2 separate regions of the Homo sapiens genome follow, and region 1 is linked to region 2. The links come from fine-mapping of genetic effects on plasma protein levels. Region 2 holds a variant in brackets. A gene starts in the other region. All regions are shown on their forward strands.

Region 1 (9,818 bases), not on the chromosome of region 2:
CTGCCTGCAGTCCTTGGCTTGTGGCCCACTATCACCTTTAAAGCCACCAGTGGCCAGACTAGTTTTTCTCATATCACATCACTCTACACTGACTATTCTGCTTCCTTCTCCCCATTTCAAAAGATTCTTCTGATTACACAGGGCTCACCCAGATAACCTATGATAGCCTCCTAATCTTAAAGTCAGCTGATGAGCAAACTTAACTTCCCCTTGCTGTATAACGTAACCTATTGTTTGGTTCCAAGAATTAAGACATGAACATCTATGCAGGACCATTATTCTGCCCACCATAATATATATTTCCATAATGATAAATTTTCAATTCTGCTCTATTAGTATAGCCTACCATGTAACCTGGTTCCTGCTTTCCTCATATACTTTATTTCATATCACATGCCCTATGTTTCTACTTCTCTAGACTTCCTCCACGTTCTCAAATGCACATTCATCCCATGCTCAGAACCTTGCTCACACACTAGTCCCTTTGCCTATCCCCATAGCTTCTCTTCTTTGGACTACTCTTACATATCCTTCAACTATCAGCTTAAATGACTATTCTTCAAAGATGGTTTCCCTGAGCCTGAGACTCCCCTAACTAAAATATAGATTCCCATTATATCTTCAGTTTTTCTTCATATAATTTATCTTAATGGTGATTAGGTCTGTAACTATGTAATTGTTCAACGGCTATTTTTAAGACACTATGAAATCAAAGTTAAGTTCTAACGTCTTCATTTGTTATGTGCCTAACACCTAGCAGTATGCTAGTTTCCCAAAAATAACTTATTTGAAAGAATGAAAGTAACTCGCTTAATTGTCATAACAATGATCATTTTATAATTGAGGGTACTGGAGCTTAGAGAAATTAAGTAACTTCACCACAGTAAAACAACTAATGAAATTCCACCTCAGTCTATCTTGTTTCTAAGTGCATCTCTTAAACACTGTGTTATTCCACACTATTTGGGCACCAACAGCCATCACTTCAAAGTCCACAGATGCTCACCAACCATCATACTGAAGACAAATTAGTGCCACCTCGATTTCCTCAATGCAGTTACCTTTGCCTACTAAAGTCCATGGTCTATTACCAAATGCCTATTTCACTCTGCGTAACACTGGCATAAGAGGAGACGTACGACCTTTTTTTCCCTTTAAAACCTTAAAGTTTTTTACAAATAACTACTAAGCTTATTTTCAACTTAACAACTTGTAAAAAAAACATGCTTTGATTTTATCCACTTCTCTTCTATGGATTAATGAGATTATAAAATCTGTTAACACTTCAGAAGAAATTGTATTAAACCAACAGAGGAAATTATCTACTTTGGGAACCTGGCCAGATTAATTGTTAAAATCAAAGATCTAAAAATCATGCTAACATTGCTAGAAAGTCCTAGAATGGTGCTTCTGTATACTCTCATTCCTGATCCCTCATGTACAGAGAGGAAAAAAACATTATTATGATCATTATCTTGGGGAATACTTCCTAGATTTTAGAAAGTAGAACCCTTTATAACCTTTCATAGGTCTTTTTATTGTCTACATTCACTCCTCTAATTTTTAAAAGCATAATAAGTGTATTTTTGTGGCTGCAAGTCAGATTATAGCTAGAAATGACTAGAAAATTGCCTGGATTCCTTTTTTGAAAATTATGGTAATTGGCAAAGATCAAAAGCCATATTTATTAAGGTGTAATCTAATTTAGCATCTTATTACTTGAATTTCCAAAACAACTATAAATCAAATTTCAACAACAACAAAACCATTTTAGTGATACTATAGTTGCTATTATTATTTTTAAAACATATGACTTTAAAATATATTTCCATTTGTTTTTATTAGGTATAGATAATAATAAATTTACGAGTTTCAAAAGGTATTGAATTGCATGCATCTCAAAATCCACTAAGGAGAAAAACTGGCACAAGGAAAAGCAATATTAAATGAGCAAAAATCACTGGGAAAGTATATGTTGAGATTTCTTTATTTTAAAGCTAAAAGACAGAAGAAGATGGTTACATTACTGCAGGAAAAATTTGATGGTCCAAAAATCTCTTCCATCTATTTAGAACATATCTGATAGCACAAAGAAACTTATATGATAGGTTCATATGAAACCTGAGAGCATCTCACGGATTTTGTAATTTGTTACTATTCCTGCTATGACTATGTATAGTGTATATGTATATACCGTACAAAATATCTGCAGCACCCTCAACTCACTGTAAATAGAATCTATAAAATCTTCAGTCTGTATATTTTTTTCTCTCTAAAGCCAAAGGAAATCTCAATGAAGCAGCAAGACTCGGAACTGACTTCTTAACAAGTTTCCAAATGCTATTAGCAAAGACCTTGCCAAGGTAATGCGAAATTCCATGCATGGCCAAAGGGCCACCTTTTGTCAATTTCATAATCCGAATCTTAGAATAAAAGAAATCACAAGAGCATAATCAATACATCAGTAATATATGCCTACTGAGAACATGGCATGCAGGAAATACTTGCTGATTGATTGGTTATATTAAATAAAGTCCATAATTTGGCAGAAAATGAAATTTTACACCTTCAAATCTCATAAACCATATTTGTTAGGCATTTACTCTGTCTAAATATTGAGCTCGGCATCAACAAGGAAGGAAAAACAACCAATTCATCAATGTACATGGATATCTAGTTACTATGGACAATTCAAACAAAACATTTTATATGCCTTATGTATTTTGAACACCTACCTTGAAGAATTTGACAATTTAAATAAAAATGAATAACTAAACATTTTTAATTAACCAGGAAAAGTTATCGATTCCTGAGACTATTTCCTAAAAATGGTTTAATTTTCTAGCATCAGAATATAAAATGCACAGTCCTGAAGGTTTCTATTTGTGACAGATCAGACACTCTTCAGAGGAAACTAGGTAGAATACTAATAAAATTTAAAGGAGCTTTGTAAATTTTAAGAGCACTACAATACCATTTGTTTATTAGGAGCTTTAGATTCCATAAAGCTTTCCAGTTACTCGAATTGGCAGTCCTGAAATAACTTTGTTTCCAGTTCATAGGGATTAAAAATCAGAGATAAAAACAACACAATACAAAACAACAACAACAAAAAAAAAAAAACAGAAGGTTAACCCTACTGACACTTCTATTCAACTGTGTGAAATTCTGCTGACAATGTAGCCTTATCTTCTTTATTATATTTGGTCATTGTTTTTAAAGGATTCAATATCCAAGCCCCACCCTCTTATAAAAGACCCTTAAGTGAATAAAACATTACCATAAATATTTGTTACAATAAAAAATTAACTTAAACATAAAATTTAAACAATAATTTTTAAGCCAGAAAATTGCATTTTAATTTTTTATAAGAGCAAACTTGTTTTAAGTAAATGTAACACATGTGAATTTCCTCCTTTCCCAACTCTAAGCTTTGGTTTTAGTGTCCATGGTGACACATACTGGCTATATCAGGCAACAACACCACTACAGAAACACTCAAGTTTTATTTTATTTCTATTTCTTGGTAGCATATTTTCCGAAGTGGTTTCCTTTTGCATATCCAACTCTTTAGTAATTATGAATTGCACTTTCAAAGCCATGGCACCAAAATAACAACAACAACAACAAAAATCTGGGTGAGGTAGGGCAAGAAGCTTTAGTCCATTAGATATGTTAAACCAAACTCCATTCTCTTTTGCCTTCATGTATTCTTCACCATACATGAATCTAGTCTGTCTGTACACGTTTAGCTACCTTTTAGAAGCTCTTATTACGGCAACTTTCCACAAACAAGCAATCCTCAAAAGCTCTAATCAAAGTTGAAGGTTTGCTGCATTGGAATTTGCTTCTGACTGCACAACACATTTAAATATAATTTGAGATGTAGACATTTGTGCCCAGCCAATATCCATTGACTTCAAAAAAAAGTTGTAAAATCGTAAGTACACAATTAATGATAATATGAGATACACTTCTAGATTAACATTTACTTGAAATCTTTCCAAAATACTTTTGAGACCATTATTCCCTTTCTCTTGTTATTGGTGGATGAAGGAAGAATGAGGGTCTTTCAAAGATAAATTTTGCCTCAAATATACTGCGACTGTGATATGCAGTAAGTAAAAATATTCAGAGGCATTAATTTTTCCAGAAAGCTACCCCCATAAAACAATTCCTCCAAGCAGGGCACCATCGTACCTGAAACTTTCAGAGATCAGTGTCTTAACTAAGATTAAGCTATCCTTTTTCCTACCTAAATCAATTTCACCCAAACGAGGCGTTTGTGTTATAATTCATTGTTCCCCAGATTCTAAAATCAACCATCTGCCATAGGAGTTTCTGCTCAGTAATTAAGGGACTATCCATTAGAACTGGCAAGAGTACAAAGTACGAAGGAGAAGGGTGAGGCAGGGGAGAAAAAACCACTTAAAAGAGATAGGGATATGTGTCTCACACTGGCCCTTCTACACCTCAGCTAAAGTACTGTCATCCATGAGGCAATACAAAGTTAGGACAAGCGGCAAGAGCAACTCCTGCCGGGGTTATCGGAACTGAAATCACAGTGGGGATGCAGCACGCCGGGCATACCTTGAAAGAGAAAGGCTTTCGTCCCATTATGCAGCCCCGGGACCTGACGCACTCCGGTCGTGGACTCCCCAAGTTCTAACTCTGTTAAGACGTCAATCTGTAGGGAAGGGTCCACACCAAGCCCCCAAACTGGTGAGGGGTATGAGGTGGGAGAGAGAAAAAGGAAAAGCTCCATCAAAATGCAAGTCTCTTCCTCCAGGGCAGCAAAGAACCGCGTTTTCGCGACAATATTGGGAACTGAAGATGAGAGGCGACTGCCTCCTCCTCCGCCGAGAGCCTTACCTGAGATCAGCAGCCAAGCTTTAAATAGCGGAGCACCCAGTCCCGTTTCCATGACCTCCTTTAAACCCTTCTCTCTGCAAAGTTCCCCCTCAGCCCTCCGACCCTGGACTAGGGGCGTGATCCGCCTCGCGGTCTCCAAGGCAAGCACAGAAAAAAAAAAAATCCATATCCAAACCCGCCCCCTTACTCCAAGCTTCCCACTCCAGACCTACTTTGGGTCCGGGAAAAGCGAGGCTTCCCCAGCCAGCCCATGCTGCCCCGAGGCGGGAGCCATCCCTTTCCCCAGCCCCAGCTCTGCGGCCACTCACCTGCTCCGAGACCGAAGATCAAACAGAATGTTCTCAGTAAGACCCGAGACTCCATGGTGCGGATCAGCTCAGTCCATCGTCTCCCTCTTTAAAAATAAAAATAAAAATCGAAGAGGTTCTTGGAATCAAGCGGGAAAATAACGTTTGTCTCTCCTGCTGCTGCCTCGGATTTACTGATCAGTAGGATTAATACGCTTTGGTTGCCTAAGAAAGAAAAGGGAGGCCTCCCCAGGCGCGTGAAGAACTTAGACCCTCCAATGCGCACATCATTCCCACACGCAGGGCCGAGGCGGCAGCGCGGCCCGGAGGGGGCCCGGAGGGAGGGGTCGGACTCGCCCCGGCGCGGCTCCGTCGGGGAATTAGCTCCCGAGCCGAATAAAAGCAGCCAAAGACTCGCACACCCGGTAGAAGGGGGGCGGCCCCAAGAAAGCCCGGGCTGGGGCGGCCCCGCACCCCCCCGTCTTCCCCGCCGCCCGAACCTGTTGTAAAGGCAGAGACAATGGAGAAAGCTCCGGGAGACGCGCGGAGAGACTGCTCCTCCGGGGAGGGAGGGGCGGGCCGGGGGAGGCGGGGTAAGGAGGAGGGAGGGGCCGCCGAGGGCGAGGCCGGCGCTCAGCGTCGGTCTCCCGCACGGTCTCCTGGATGCCAAACCCGGTCTAGGGAGCCCAGGAGCCGTTGCAGCCTCAGCTCTTCTCCCTCCCTCTCTCGATGACCCGGGCAATGCCAACCTCCTTTCGGGATTGAAAGCTCTAAATCCAAGGTGCTAAGTTGATGGGCGGTCTTTGCTCTCACCCCTCGATTTCGGGCGCGTGTCTTGAAAGACAGGAGAGAAAAAAGACCACCCAGCTGCAGGAGGCAAGGCTGGAGCGAGTAGCGCTCGCCTGCCCTTTAAGCAAAGGAGGGAAGCCCATGTGCACTCGTGCACTGGGCTCCGGAGCAGCCCCGGGGTGCAGGGCACTCCCCCTCCAGGGCGTGCGGAGGAAGGCCACCAAAACACGCTGCACTGCCGAGGTGGAGCTGGGCAAAGTAGGTAGAGACTGGTGGGGACGGATGGCGAGCCTGGGAAGCCCCGGGTGTCCTGGTGGAGAGGTTCCCTGCCGGGGGCGGGGCGCTGGAGAGCTTCCCCGGCGCGGAGAGCTTCCCGGGCGCGGAGAGCGCAGAGAACTTGGCCAGGAGGTGCTGGACAGCTCCGGAACCCGCGCGCCCCCTGCCAAATAAAGCGTGGAGACCCGGACTCGGGCTCTCTGGGACCAGCATACAGCAGAAGGCAAGGGGAACTGAGCCAGGGCGTCTGTTCACGCCGAAATATCTACCTACATAGAGGAGATGGTTAGAGAGAGAGAGAGAGAGAGAAATAAATAAATACGTAAATAAGCAGAGGGAGGAGATGGAGCCCAGGCGAGAGAGAAGAGCCATCCCACTGTTGACCACACTCATGCAGGCTCTACCTGCCCTTCACCACATATGTCCGGGACCATAAAAGTGGTGTCCTTTGAGATCCATTTTTCAGCAGGCACATGTATGTTCAAGATCAATGGTACATAATATTTTTTGAACATAGCCCTAAAATTTTTAGGTAAATTTTGAGGAATGGCATTCCACTTTCATTTTGGAAAAGTTAAGAGTTTAAAAAACCATTATGGTATTAATCTGTACAAAGATCAATTGGGTTTCTTAACCTTCCATGCAAACATGTGGGTACTGAATTCTCCAACTGGATACTAACAGCTACAGTTACCAAAATGCCTACTGGGTAGTCTGAGCCCCCTGCAAGGCAGGAGTATAATATACATTTTATCTATAGATATATAGTTATAGATATTATCATATAGTGGAATACATATACTATATTATACTATAGGGAAAGAGGTATTTTTAGATCTGCCCTTAGAATTTTTAAGACAAAAGATTCAGAATTCGGGAGCTCTTTTAAATTAATTTTTAATTCTCTCTTATCGAATTTCCCATTTAATTCTATTTGTAACTTTGTAAAGTTTGAGAAATATTTCAGTACTTACAAGTGATAAAGGATTGTCATATGCAATTTCCCAAATTTGAAAAACTATGCCAAATAAATAATACAATTTAATTAATCAATGAAAAGAAATTAATCATCAGAGAATTAAAGACCTTTCTACAGCTGTGCATCTAAAATATTCAATTGTAATAAGTATCTACAGAAGCTACACGAAATAAATTTTAAATAACGTAGCATTTAAAATGCTATCATTAGAGAAAAGAATAAAACATAAATATACATATGCACATATATATTTCCACATAAAAGTCCTCCTAACCAACCTGTGTTCAACCAACTCATGAAAGTAGGGATACTCTCGAGTTTCTCTGACTCTCATCCATATGCTGAAAGCTGGTGGTTAATGGGCTTATCTCCAGTACCATACACACTGAGGCTCCCTCCAGAACAGTGGTATTTGGTACCCAAAATAATTCTAGTTGAACCTGCTACTGTAATTATTTGACCTAATTAAATAGTATGGAAATCATTAAAATATGAGTATGGGGAGGTGTGAAGAGTTGTTTCTCTAAAACTAAGGTATAAGGTTTGGAAACCCATAGTAAAGGTGAGCCATTGTATTAGCTAGGGCAGAGTTTCTCAACCTGGGCAGGAGTTTTCAACATTATAACTACTAACATTTTGGGGCTGGATAATTCTTTATTGGGGCTGTCCTGTGCCTTGTAGGATGTTAGTTGAATTCTTGGTCTCTATCCACTGAATGCCAGTATTTTCAGTATTCCATTTTATCTATGTGTTCTTTTGACTATATCTCTTTGTGAAGCTTTTAAAATTGGTATTCTAGGGAATACAATATACATACTTAACTTTTCACCTTCTACCTAGAGTCCATACATTACCACTTCAGTTCGAATACAGAAGCTTTACTACCACATCAAATCCCTTTATCCTCAACTCTTTAGGTTGTAGTTGTCTTATGTATTATATCTACATACACTCAAACTCCTTTTAGACAATGTTAAAATTTTGCTTGCAATCATTGTTGTAGGCATAATAATATTCCAATCCCCTTCCCCTTAAGAAACAGTCTTTTCCAGTTCCTAATCAGTGGAACCTGTGTATGTTACCTCACATGGCAAAGGGGATTTAAGGTTGCAGATGGAATTAAGATTGTTAATCAGGTAACCTTAAAATAGGAAGATTATTTCAGATTATCTGGGTATGCCCAATATAATCACGAGGGCCCTTAAATGTGGAAGAAGGAGGCATAAGAGGAGGTCAGATTAATGCAATATGAGAAGAACTCGACTTCCTGTTGCTGACTATGAAGATGGGAAAATATAGAAGGGCTATGAGACAAGGAATATGGGAGGCATCTAGAAATTGGAAATGGCAAGGAAAAAGATTATCCCTTAGAGCCTCCAGAAAAGAATACAACCCTGCTGATAACTTGACTCTTGCCCAAAAAAGTCAAGACTGTTTTAGACTTCTGAACAACCATCCGTAAGATAATAAATTTGTGTTGTTTTAATCCACTAAATTTGTGGTAGTTGGTTACAGCATCCACGGAAAACTAATATAAGTACTGACTACATGAGGAAAAGTTCAGTAAACATGGTTGACTCTAACGACCCTTAGATCCCTTCCTACCATATACACATATCAAAGCTAAGTAAAATGCCCAATTTTTAAATTCACAGATGAGCTTTAAATTAAGAAAAGAAAATCCCCAGGTGCTAGAAAAAAGACATAGCAGAAGATGGACAGAGAAAGCAATAGGTGGTGCAAGAATTTGGAGAGGGTGGAACACAGGGATTCAGACTCTATCGGGACCCTAAGAAAATAGAGTGGGATTTTAACATCCACACCAGAACTGAAAACAACAAATTTTGGAAGCCAGAAAAGATGATGATATTACTGATTCTTCTGATAAGAGTAGTAAGCTTTGAAGAATTATATCTCCTACAAAAAGAAACTTTTGAAACTTTAAAACTTTGCATGTTGGCCGAAGCTTGCCAGCTGCACGTGCCCTTGTGGAAAACCAATGCACCTATACTAAATGTCAAATCTCAAGCTTTGCCACTTGCAGGTACAAGGTCCGAGATCACACTCCTCACTGATATGGAAATTCTAAAATCAAAAAGTAGCATTAAACTCCCAGGGTCTTCTGAAGAAGCAAATATAAGACTTCTTTTAAGTGACTTTCTATGACTTCTGGTACACAAGAAGAAAATTCCTGCTGTGCAATAATAATAATAATAATTGTCATTGTTATTACTATTACACTGAGATAAAAGACTATGAAAAATAGTCAAGAAACATACACACACACACACACACACACACACAGAGAGAGAGAGAGAGAAAAACAGAGAATTAGTATCTCATGACCTCAGGATATCAAAAAATAAAGTGACAGAAAACATAAAATAAGAATGTTTAAGTGATTGGAGATATTTTTAAAGGGATATAAAAGAAATGAAATGACAGAATTGTATGAGAAAAGAGTAGACATATCTCAAAAGAAACCAAATAGAACTTCTAGCAATAAAAGTATGTTTAAAAACAATATTAAAAACCATTAGCTCTAATAAGCAGCAATAAAACAGTGCTAAAAATTAGTGACCAAAAACATTGAAAACAAAAAGTCAGATGTGAGA
Region 2 (9,818 bases):
ATTTCATAAGCTTTCATGTTTTGCTATCTAGATGATGCAAGAACTAGGAAGGTTAGAAAATTAAGTATTGGGATTAAAATAAGTTTGGAGGGGGTGATATAAGTAGAGAGGAGATTCTACTTCACTTAGTAACTTCCATTTTTAGACCAGGAAGCAATTTGTTCAGATTCTACTTCCCCTAGAGAGGCAGGCTTCCTTCCAGGGTAGAAGGATGCGGGAAGGGGAGTAACCATGGCAACCTGCCCAGCTATGTGGGCAAGGATAGTATGGGGCCTGCACACACTCGGAAGAATTTTTATTTCTAGCCTAGTCATTCAGTTTAATCCGGGTGGTCCCTCCCTTCCCACTTCCTTCTGTGACAATGCTGACTTCAGGGGGAAGGATTGCTCCTTCTCTGTCAGGAGTCTGAGAGGGTGTGGGGAGGACTTAATTGAGACCAGCGAGGTCAGCCTGACCAAACCAAAGTGCAGGCTTCCAGGACGAAAACAGAGAGTAACTCCCTGTCTGTTCTAGCATGAGCACAAGCAAACGCACTGGCTTTATTAAAATCAAGTGCTTGAATAATTAACCTTTTTCAAGTAGGTGAAGGGTATTCAATTTTCATGAAGAAATTTTCCATTTGCTTTCAGTTTTCACAAAGACACTTAATTCAGTTGTTCAGGGGGGAGTAATAACAAACAAACAAAACCTTCAAAATCAGATGGGAAAAAGTATTCCAAGTATATTAGATTAGCTGTCTTCCCAGCAATCCTGGGGTAGGTACTATTATTCTCCCCAGATAAGCAAGCTGAAGTACAGAGAGGTTATGGAATGTGCCCAAGGCCATGTAACCTGCAACCCTGTAGCTAAGATTTGAACCCAGGAAATGGTACTTCAGAAGGTAGTTCTCAACTACTATCCAATTGTGCCCTGTTGGAGGCAGCCAGTGTTGAATGTTAGCCCTCTGTGTCCGTACCAGTCATCATTTGTTCCCCTAACCAGGAATTTGCTTGTTTTCTGTCTTTAAGTAAAGACTGAGGAGTCTGCTTTCCTTCTGATTTCCACCAGTTAATCCAGTCAGGATATGCTGATATTATGAGTTGGGTCTCCTTTAAAGACACATATCTGGTGTTAAATCTGATTCATCTGGCCGGGTGTGGTGGGCTCATGCCTGTAATTCCAGCACTTTGGGAGGCCGAGGTGGGTGGATCACTTGAGGTCAGGAGTTCGAGACCAGCCTGGCCAACATGGTGAAACCCCGTCTCTACTACTACTACAAAAAAAAAAAAAAAATATTATCCAGGTATGGTGGCGGGTACCTCTAATCCCAACTAATCAGGAGACTGAGGTCACAGAATCTCTTGAACCCAGGAGGCAGAGGCTGCAGTGGGTCAAGTTCATGCCAGTGTACTCCAGCATGGGCAACAGAGGGAGACTCTGTCTCAAACAAAACAAAACAAAACAAAACAAAAATCTGTTTCACCTAAATATGATTTTGGCCAACCTTTGTGCAATTCAGCGGCACAGCTTCAACTTTGGAATTACATAGCAGTGCCAGGGAGAATTTTAAAATACCACATCCTGTTACTCAGGTGTTTCATATTGCCAATCTGGTTCCCATTCTGGTTCTGTCTAAAGGGTAAAAAACCTTATGTGTTTGGTTAGTTACCTAAACCTTCCTGGCCAGTAAGCTTTCGAATCTTTCCAGCTGGGGAGGTATGTTCTGATGAGCATTAGGACAACTTCAAACCCCAGGAGGGCTCACTCTCAGCAGCTTTCCCAAGCATTTCAGCATCTTGGCTTTGTCTTTAAGAAGAGCAATAATTAAATCCTCAGGTCAAAAGAATGAGGAAGAGAAACACGCAGAGCCTTCAAAATTATCCAGATGAAATATCAGTGGTAGCAAACTTAGGTTTATGGACATATGAGGGTAGAGTTAGAAATGAAGCAGCATAAGAGCCTATGTCACAGCAAAGCCTCCTGCTTGGCCAGGAGCACTCAGCAAGGAAGATATCTTCCTGCTCCCTTAACCTTCAGATAATCGAGGCCTGGTTGAGCAGGCCAGTAAATATCATCCCCAAACAGCTGGTCAGCAGCTGCCAGAGGTCCCTGTACTACCTTCATGCCAACAAGTGCCTTAAAAGCCGTACCCTTCAACCCAAACAAGGCCAGTGAAATCCATTCAACCTTTGGAGAAAGACAACAAACAGGCCTAATGCACAGGAATTTGGACTTCCAGTTTAATCTGAAACTATAAAAGTCTTTAGCAGAAACACAAACTCTGGAGTTTGCCCTTCACAAATTAGACAAGGTTTGTAACAAGTGCTTTCTTCCCTCACTTACATCCTCAGGTAAAGATCAACCATCAAGATCAAAGATCCCCAGAATGGCAAATACATACGTGTATGGGCTCAAAGTTGGAAGACATTCCTCTACCATCTACTTATTCTGGTTATACATTAAAGCATAGGAGGGCATAGCTGAAAAATGACTGGTTTCTAGGTCAGTCATTTGGATGAGAAGGGATCCTTCCAGCTGGGAGTGGGAAAAGAAGGGGGAAGTTATTCACCAACAACAGGAAAAAGAATTTAGTTGGCCTTAGGAGGAAACTGACTAAGGATTTGGAAGAAGTGGTCTGTCCCAGAAATCCACATTGGCAAAGACCACTAGGTCTTCTTCATGCTTTCTCTAGAAGACTTTCCCATTGTACTCAAATACTCCCGAATTCTCAAGGCAATAAACTTTCTTACAGTGTCACTGAGGGCCATCTCCCTTCCAAGAGGGGAGACACAGAACCTGGAGTGGGCGGGGCACCTGGCTCAGAGAAAAGTAGCCTCCCAAAGTCTGGCTGCTGGGGTAAGAAGCATGGTGACAAGCCATTTGGTAGCTGCAAGCTCCCTCCTCCCCAACAGCCAGTAGGTGCTTTTGTGTGAGAAGCCAACCTCAAGACTGTAAGGACAATCAAGTATACATCTCATCAAAGCCATTCCAAGAGGCTTATCAGACATCTCAAAGGCATTTTTTGTAGATGCCTGCTTTCCACTCCCATTACTTCTGTTTGCATTAGTTATATCTTACCTCCTTCTCCCCCATGCCCCTGCTTTGCCTGACTAAGGCCAGAAATTTTTTCATGAAGTCACTTTATAGAGCAATAGCAACATTTACTATTCGTGAAGTCGCCCCTCCATAATTTTTAAGTCTTTCCATGTGTCTGGAAGCTTGTTTCTGCTCTTCTCGGTTTACAGAGCGGCTCTCTTCCTTCCAAACAAAAACTAAAAAGAAAGGGGAAAAGGTGGGGGGTGGTTGGGGTGGAGATAACACCCAGATTCCTTAAGTGTTTTTAATCCAGTTGAATTTCCCTTTGGACTCAGCTCCCTGCTGAAACTGTCTGCGGACCAGAATTCCAGGCTCAGAATTAAGTCAAGAGGGAAAGACAGCAGAAACAAATAACAGAGTCAGCTCTATGCTATGAAAACCGCTATGTTGACTGAGGCTCCACGGTTTTAACCCATTCATTTTTCCCCCCTTTTTTAGAATTCTTACTTAATCTTTTTAACCAGCTTACAACAGGCAGGCAAGCACCATATAAACCATGCTCCCTGCGCCGGGGGATATAAAACAAGTTTCTTAAGTCCCTTGGGTAGATACTTCCTTAGGAATGCCGGTGTAAGACAAAAGTTCACATTTTAATGCCATATGTTGTCAGTCACCAGGAAAAAGCTCCTTATGGGCACAAGCCAGGTCCCCAGCCTTTGTCACACAGCAAAAATAAACACCCTTCGAGGAGTTAATTAGGCGGTCAGCAGCCACCTCAGTGTCCTAGGAGGGCTGCCCGCAGACCTTTTACACACACACACACACACACACACACACACACACACACACACACACACACACGACACAAAAGGAGGCGTTTGTTAAATGTCACAAGCTGGGCATCTGGAGTCGGATTCGAAAGGTAAATACATTCCGCGGAAGCATTCCTCAGATGTCAGGCCACAAAACTGCTGGTTTCCCCAAGCACAGGGTCTCATTTCTAAGATTCCCCACAGCCCAAGGTCTGTACTCAAAGAAGGGTAGCGGGGGGCGGGGGGGTGAGAGAGGGGGAGCAAAGGAGAGAAGGAGATCTTTAAAAAAAAAATGGAGCCAGAGGGAAGAAGGGTTTCGAAGCTACTCACCGGCTAGCTATTGCCTCCGTGAAGCGAGCATGACTTCCCCGCGCCCGGAGCCTCCAGGCTACAGCGCAGCGGATGCGGCGGGCCTCGCTTAAATAGCCGCCGGCCGGGAGCTTCGGAGCCGCGCGGCCACTCCCGGCGAGAGATATGGTTCTAATCAGATGCTGGCAGCTGAGGACTCCCCAGGAA[T/G]GTGCCAGGATGTTTTTGCTGCCTGGGCTTGGTAACTCCCCCTCAACGTGTCTGCAGAGTCTTCCAAACTTAACTGTTTATTAACTCGCGCTGCAGCGGCGCAGAGGACCCCGCTCCCCTGAGCTCCGCGAGCCCCACCAGCTGGGGGCGATCGCAGGGACCCAGCGACGGGAGGGGAAATGTGTTCGGGGAGAAGTCAAAAGCCCCAGACCGACGCGGGCGGGGGGCGGGTGCAAATAAGGACAGGAAAGGGAAGCTCTGGAGGAAAGGGGTGGGATCCACCGAGCTTCGTTTCACAGATCCGTTCCCTGGATTGCCACTGCGAGTGATGTGGCACACGGAGTCATCCTAACCAACCCGTTGGGGCCCTTTGAACAAAGGACTGCCTTTACTCCTGACTTTTCTGACAAGGGACAACGGTTCCTGCGCAGATCTGCAGTTTCTAAAGTTGATCGCGCGATTGGATTTGCTCCCCTTAGAAGAAATTAGTGTCTCCCTCATTGCAGATGCAAATGCGCTTAAGTTAGTGGGAAATCTATGTGTGCATATGTGAAACATACTGTATTTACCTATGAAATATAATCATATATATGGATATAAAAATAATATTCTCTCTGAAATCGATATGAGCAAAACATGTTCACGTCTATGTAGCCTATCAAATAAGTTATAATTCTGATACAATCAGAGATTCTATACAGGCTTCCCTTACAGTGTATATACACCTATATGTAGACACATAACATGACTTTATCTGCATGAATTTCCATAGCACTTCCTATAACTCTAGGAAAAACATGAACTGCAAGAAATAAAATATTTAAAAATGTTAACGTAGAGTGCTGAGCGGTAGAAGGTACTCCGCAGCAAATCCTAATGAGTGTTAACAAGCTGAGAATTCATTTTCTCCATATTTTAAAATCAAGAATTATTGTAAAACATCCACAGAAGCTCTGTTGCTTTTTGGAGAATTCTGAAATTACTCTTGTGAAAGACGTGTCTCTTTTCCCTTTTTTTAAGAAAAAAATTTAATTGTTTAAAGTCAGAGGCAGCACGTAGTAAATGTGAAAATGCTAAATTGTATCTCGGATGGGAGGGGGTTATTGATTTTATCGAGTAAGCAACACAGTGGATTTGCATTTTACCTCTGGAAACTGAGGGTTCAAATAGGGCTCGTGGGACATCAAGGATATATTTTGTGGTCCGTGCCTAGCCTCGACTGCAAAGCCACTGTGTAATTTGGGGTAGCTCAATGTGAGTGGCAATGTCTGCTCTCAAGTAGGTCAGGCTTGAAACAACCGTTGTTCGGGGAGACTGAGGGGTGCAGAGCAGCACAGCTGGCCCAGAATTCTACTTCCCCAGCCTCTACTATTTCTCATCCCCTGACACACCTAGGGGTGTGGAGGCAGGGAGGGCCATGCTGGCAGTTTTCAATATTCCTCAGAGGTAATTTGCTATTTTAAAAAATGACTTTGTGTGAATGACAGGAAGTATACAAATTTTAGTCCTAGGATAGTATTCTATTTATAACATTTATGCAGAGAAATGTAATTCTAGTACATTTTAGAACACAAGGCTTTGTTTCTAAAATCTAGAAGTCCAGTTTCATTTCTATTGGCTAGGTAGCTGGAAAAAGGGCTGCTGACTTCAGGCAAATAGAGACTTTGATAATTAGAAAGACATGGGTGTCTCTTTTAACCTCAATATGTAATATTTTCTAGACTAAGAAGTGCTCACTCAATTCTATTTTTTTTTTTTTTGAAAGACTCTTACCAAGAAATACTAACTTATGTTTGCTCTACCCCACCAAATGGAAGGGATTTGTCTAAGAAGCCAGAGGAAGAAAATGATTTCATCTGCTATGAGTTGTAGTTTCAAGAGAAGACTTTGATGAAAACAGTTCATTTAAGAGCAGTGGGCTCACACTTACAACTTAAAATAGACACCTCTTATTTTGCACAGAAATCTGAAGAGTCGACAGTGGAGAATTCTGGTTTGAACTGTATTTTTATATCTCTAGGGCACCGATATTGCTTCTGGCAGTAATTCAATGTCCTGCTCACATTAAGAAAAAAAAAGAAAAGAAATTTAACTCTTTTTATCCCTCGTGAAACATTGTCTCTGTCTCATCTAAGTTGTTCACTTTTCAACAAGTCTAAAATGAACATCTTTCCCTCTGGAGAATCACGCCAAAGCCCACCCAGATATTTACCCTGCCTAAATAATGGTCTTTTCTTATCACCACTGAAATTTATGTTTAGAAAATTAAGGGGAGGAAAAGTCAGTTCAATGTTTGAAAAACAATAGTCTTTGAATGGCAATTGTCCGTTGCAGAAAACCTGCCTGTGAGAGAGAAGGAAAAAATAAAATAAAACAAATGACTGTGCTCCCAGCCTAGGAAAGGGGTAGTTAATCCCGTGATGGCTTGCTGAAGAATGCATGGTTTATTATTAAAGTAATCTCTTAAGATTTTCCTGGAATGTGCTTCCACAGCAACTCTGCCTGTTCGACCTATCCTATGCATGTGTCTTTTCTTCCATAATTAAGCTGTTTTCCTCTGTTAGCTCACAGACCTAATCCTTTATCCTTTCTCTCCTCCTTCTCCATCACTTCTTCTATCCCCCTCTCTACTGCTCTTGTCTTCCTTAAACTGCCCCTTTTGAAGCCTGTCATTTCTCCTGAATTGTAAATGGCACTTTGGAACTGGCTGTAAGGTAAACTGCCTGTGTGCCTTTGATGCCTTGCTGGACACTTAGAGATGTTAAAATCAAACAAGGATTTGTTGAAGTGGACCTAGTAAGGTCACATCTCTCTCTCTCTCCTTTTTTTTTTTTCCTTCTCCATGTCATTAAAAAAACAATGAAGAGAATGGCTATTGTTCCCAGAAAATGTTCTTTGACCTTGACCAGTCCTGCATATTTAACATTACAGAAAAACTGACCCTACCAGATTTGGTGGCTGGCAAGTCAAAACAAATACTGGAGGTTTTTTTTCATATCTCTGTCTATCCATCTACCTGTCCATCTTCTGATCTAAAATATTTGGAAGATAGTTTCATAGAAGGCAGCCTGTTTGTGTTTTGTTTTCTTGCTTATACCCCTATAGCATCTCAGAACTAATATGTATTTTTCTGTTTTGTGCAATTTTAATGAAACTCAGGTGGTAGACTACTAGGGTACTTGGAAAAATTGGTACTTGTAAAATGAAGAACATTTAAAATTCAATAATATAAATGTATATAACTAATTACACCTCACTTATCAATATAAATTTTTATAATGAGAAATTGTGAAAGGCAAGTAAATACCCATAAAAATTACCATTCAAATAAATACTGTCTTACTTGGAAAGAAACCTAGCAGGAGTTATCAAAAATGAAAATACATAAAACCCTGCAGGAATTACTAATATTAATTGTTATTGTAGCAAACACATACACTTCTCTATCCTAGGAGTAAGAATCTATCCACTAGAAATAAAGCACATGTATAATATGCAAGGATTTTTTTTTTTTTATTTTTCTGAGATGGAGTCTTGCTCTGTGGCCCAGGCTAGAGTGCAGTGGCAAGATCTCGGCTCAGTGCAACCTCCGCCTCCCGGGTTCAAGCAATTCTCTGCCTCAGCCTCCCGAGTAGCTGGGATTACAGGTGCCCACCACCATGCCCAGTTAATTTTTGTATTTGTATTTTTAGTAGAGACGGGGTTTCACCATCTTAGCCAGGCTGGTCTCATGATCCACCCGCCTCGGCCTCCCAAATTGCCGGGATTACAGGCATGAGCCACCACTCCCTGCCCCCAAGGTTGTTAATTGTATCATTTATAGCAGCAGGAAGCTAGGACAAAATATGCCTGTCAATGGAGAATGACTGAGTATGTTATGACTTATCCATACTGTGAAGTCATATGTAACCATTCAAAGGAATAAATTAGAGTCAAATTTTGTGACATGGGAATATTCCTTTAGGTTTTTTTGAGTGAGAAAAGCAAGGTACAGAAAAGCATGGAAAAGATGTTTCTATTTTAGTAATATAAAAAGCAACACCTATTTATATATATTTGGGTATATATGTTTGTGGGTATATATGAAGGATTATCAAGGAGGTTGCAGTACAGATTACTAGGGGCCTGGTGGAGACAAGGGCAGAGAAAAGGGGTGGGAGCCATGCAAAAAGGAAAAAACTGAAAATAGTCTTTATGCAGGTATAGGTCACATTTATGCATTGAAGTGAAATGATATACACGCAGGTTTGTGGGTTTTTTTTCAAAAAGATTATATCATTTTAAGATAAGGAAAGGAAGAAAGGAAATCCTACGAATAGTTTTCATGGAGGTCTACCTTTAGGCTTTTCAAAAGTGAGTATTCATCAGTATGCTCATTGCTTAATTCAGCCTCCAGAGCAATAGTTCTCAAATTGTAGTATTTACGACAGTCATCCCGGAAGTTGGCTACTAGAGTAAATTCCTGGGCTCAGCCTCAGAGACTTCTCTGGAAAGGTCTGTGGTGGGGGTACCAGGGAATCTGTTTTTTGTTTTTTGTTTTTTGTTTTTTTTTTTTGAGACGGAGTCTCGCTCTGTCACCAGGCTGGAGTGCAGTCACGCGATCTCGGCTCACTCAAGCTCTGCCTCCCGGGTTCACGCCATTCTCCTGCCTCAGCCTCCCGAGTAGCTGGGACTGCAGGCACCCGCCACCACGCCCAGCTAATTTTTTGTATTTTTAGTAGATACGGGGTTTCACCGTGTTAGCCAGGATGGTCTTGATTTCCTGACCTCGTCATCTGCCCGCCTCGGCCTCCCAAAGTGCTGGAATTACAGGCGTGAGCCACCGCCGCCCGCCCGGAATCTGTGTTTTAATCAGCACTTCCAGGTCATTCTGATGCAGTGGTCTTGGGGACCACACTTTCAGAGATGCTGCTTTTCTCCTGAGAGAAATGGTGAAACCGCGTCTCTATTAAAAAAAACACACACAAAAATTAGCCAGGCGTGGTGGCGCACACCTATAGTCCCAGCCACTCAGGAGGCTGAGGCAGAAGAATTGCTTGAACCCAGGAGGCGGAGGTTGCAGTGAGTGGAAATCGCACCAATGCACTCCAGCCTGGGGTGACAGAGCAAGACTCCGTCTCAAAAAAAAATAAAAATAAAAATAAAAATAAAAAGACAAAGAAAACAGGTCTAACCATTCACAGACATTCGATTCGGTCCCTAAACACTTCTGCTCCATTCCAACCATGCGCATGTGATGTGCTTAGGTTTCTGGACTGATTGAATAGCCTCAGTTTTAAAATGGAATGGTCACTTGTGAATGAAGAAGGAATACCATTTGCTGTACTCGTTTAATGCTCATGCTCAAGGTCACGTCTTCATTAGAGAATGGAGGGAAGCTGTGTCTGGACTCCAGGATGATTTAACTCCCTAATGAGTGTGAAGCACATGTACATGCACACGCTTCACACAAGCGTCTGTGTGCCTGTTCGTATA

Which allele goes with the higher level. Alleles are on the strand shown, and positions count from the first base shown. The strength of an association depends on the size of the effect and on how common the allele is.
With allele T in place of G in region 2, the plasma level of the protein whose gene starts at base 5,681 in region 1 is higher (weak association).

What was found. A credible set is the group of variants that fine-mapping cannot tell apart. PIP is the chance, under the fine-mapping model, that this variant and not a neighbour inherited with it causes the effect. Protein levels are from antibody-based Olink assays in UK Biobank. Linkage for the fine-mapping came from a reference panel and not from the study's own genotypes, which makes the PIPs less certain.
Region 1: it holds the start of NELL2, and the variant in region 2 is the best candidate, but not a certain one, in a credible set for the plasma level of the NELL2 protein (UK Biobank, PIP 0.67).

What each region holds. Positions count from the first base shown.
Region 1 is chr12:44,870,635-44,880,452 of GRCh38, forward strand. NELL2 (neural EGFL like 2) reads right to left here and starts at 5,681. Exons shown (of 20, transcript NM_001145108.2): 1 at 5,181-5,681; 2 at 4,591-4,719. The coding sequence starts at 5,235. RefSeq lists enhancers at 5,804-6,305, 6,306-6,805.
Region 2 is chr5:39,420,647-39,430,464 of GRCh38, forward strand. It overlaps DAB2 (DAB adaptor protein 2), which reads right to left and starts at 4,334. Exons shown (of 15, transcript NM_001343.4): 1 at 4,158-4,334. The variant T/G (reference allele first, on the strand shown) is at 4,344.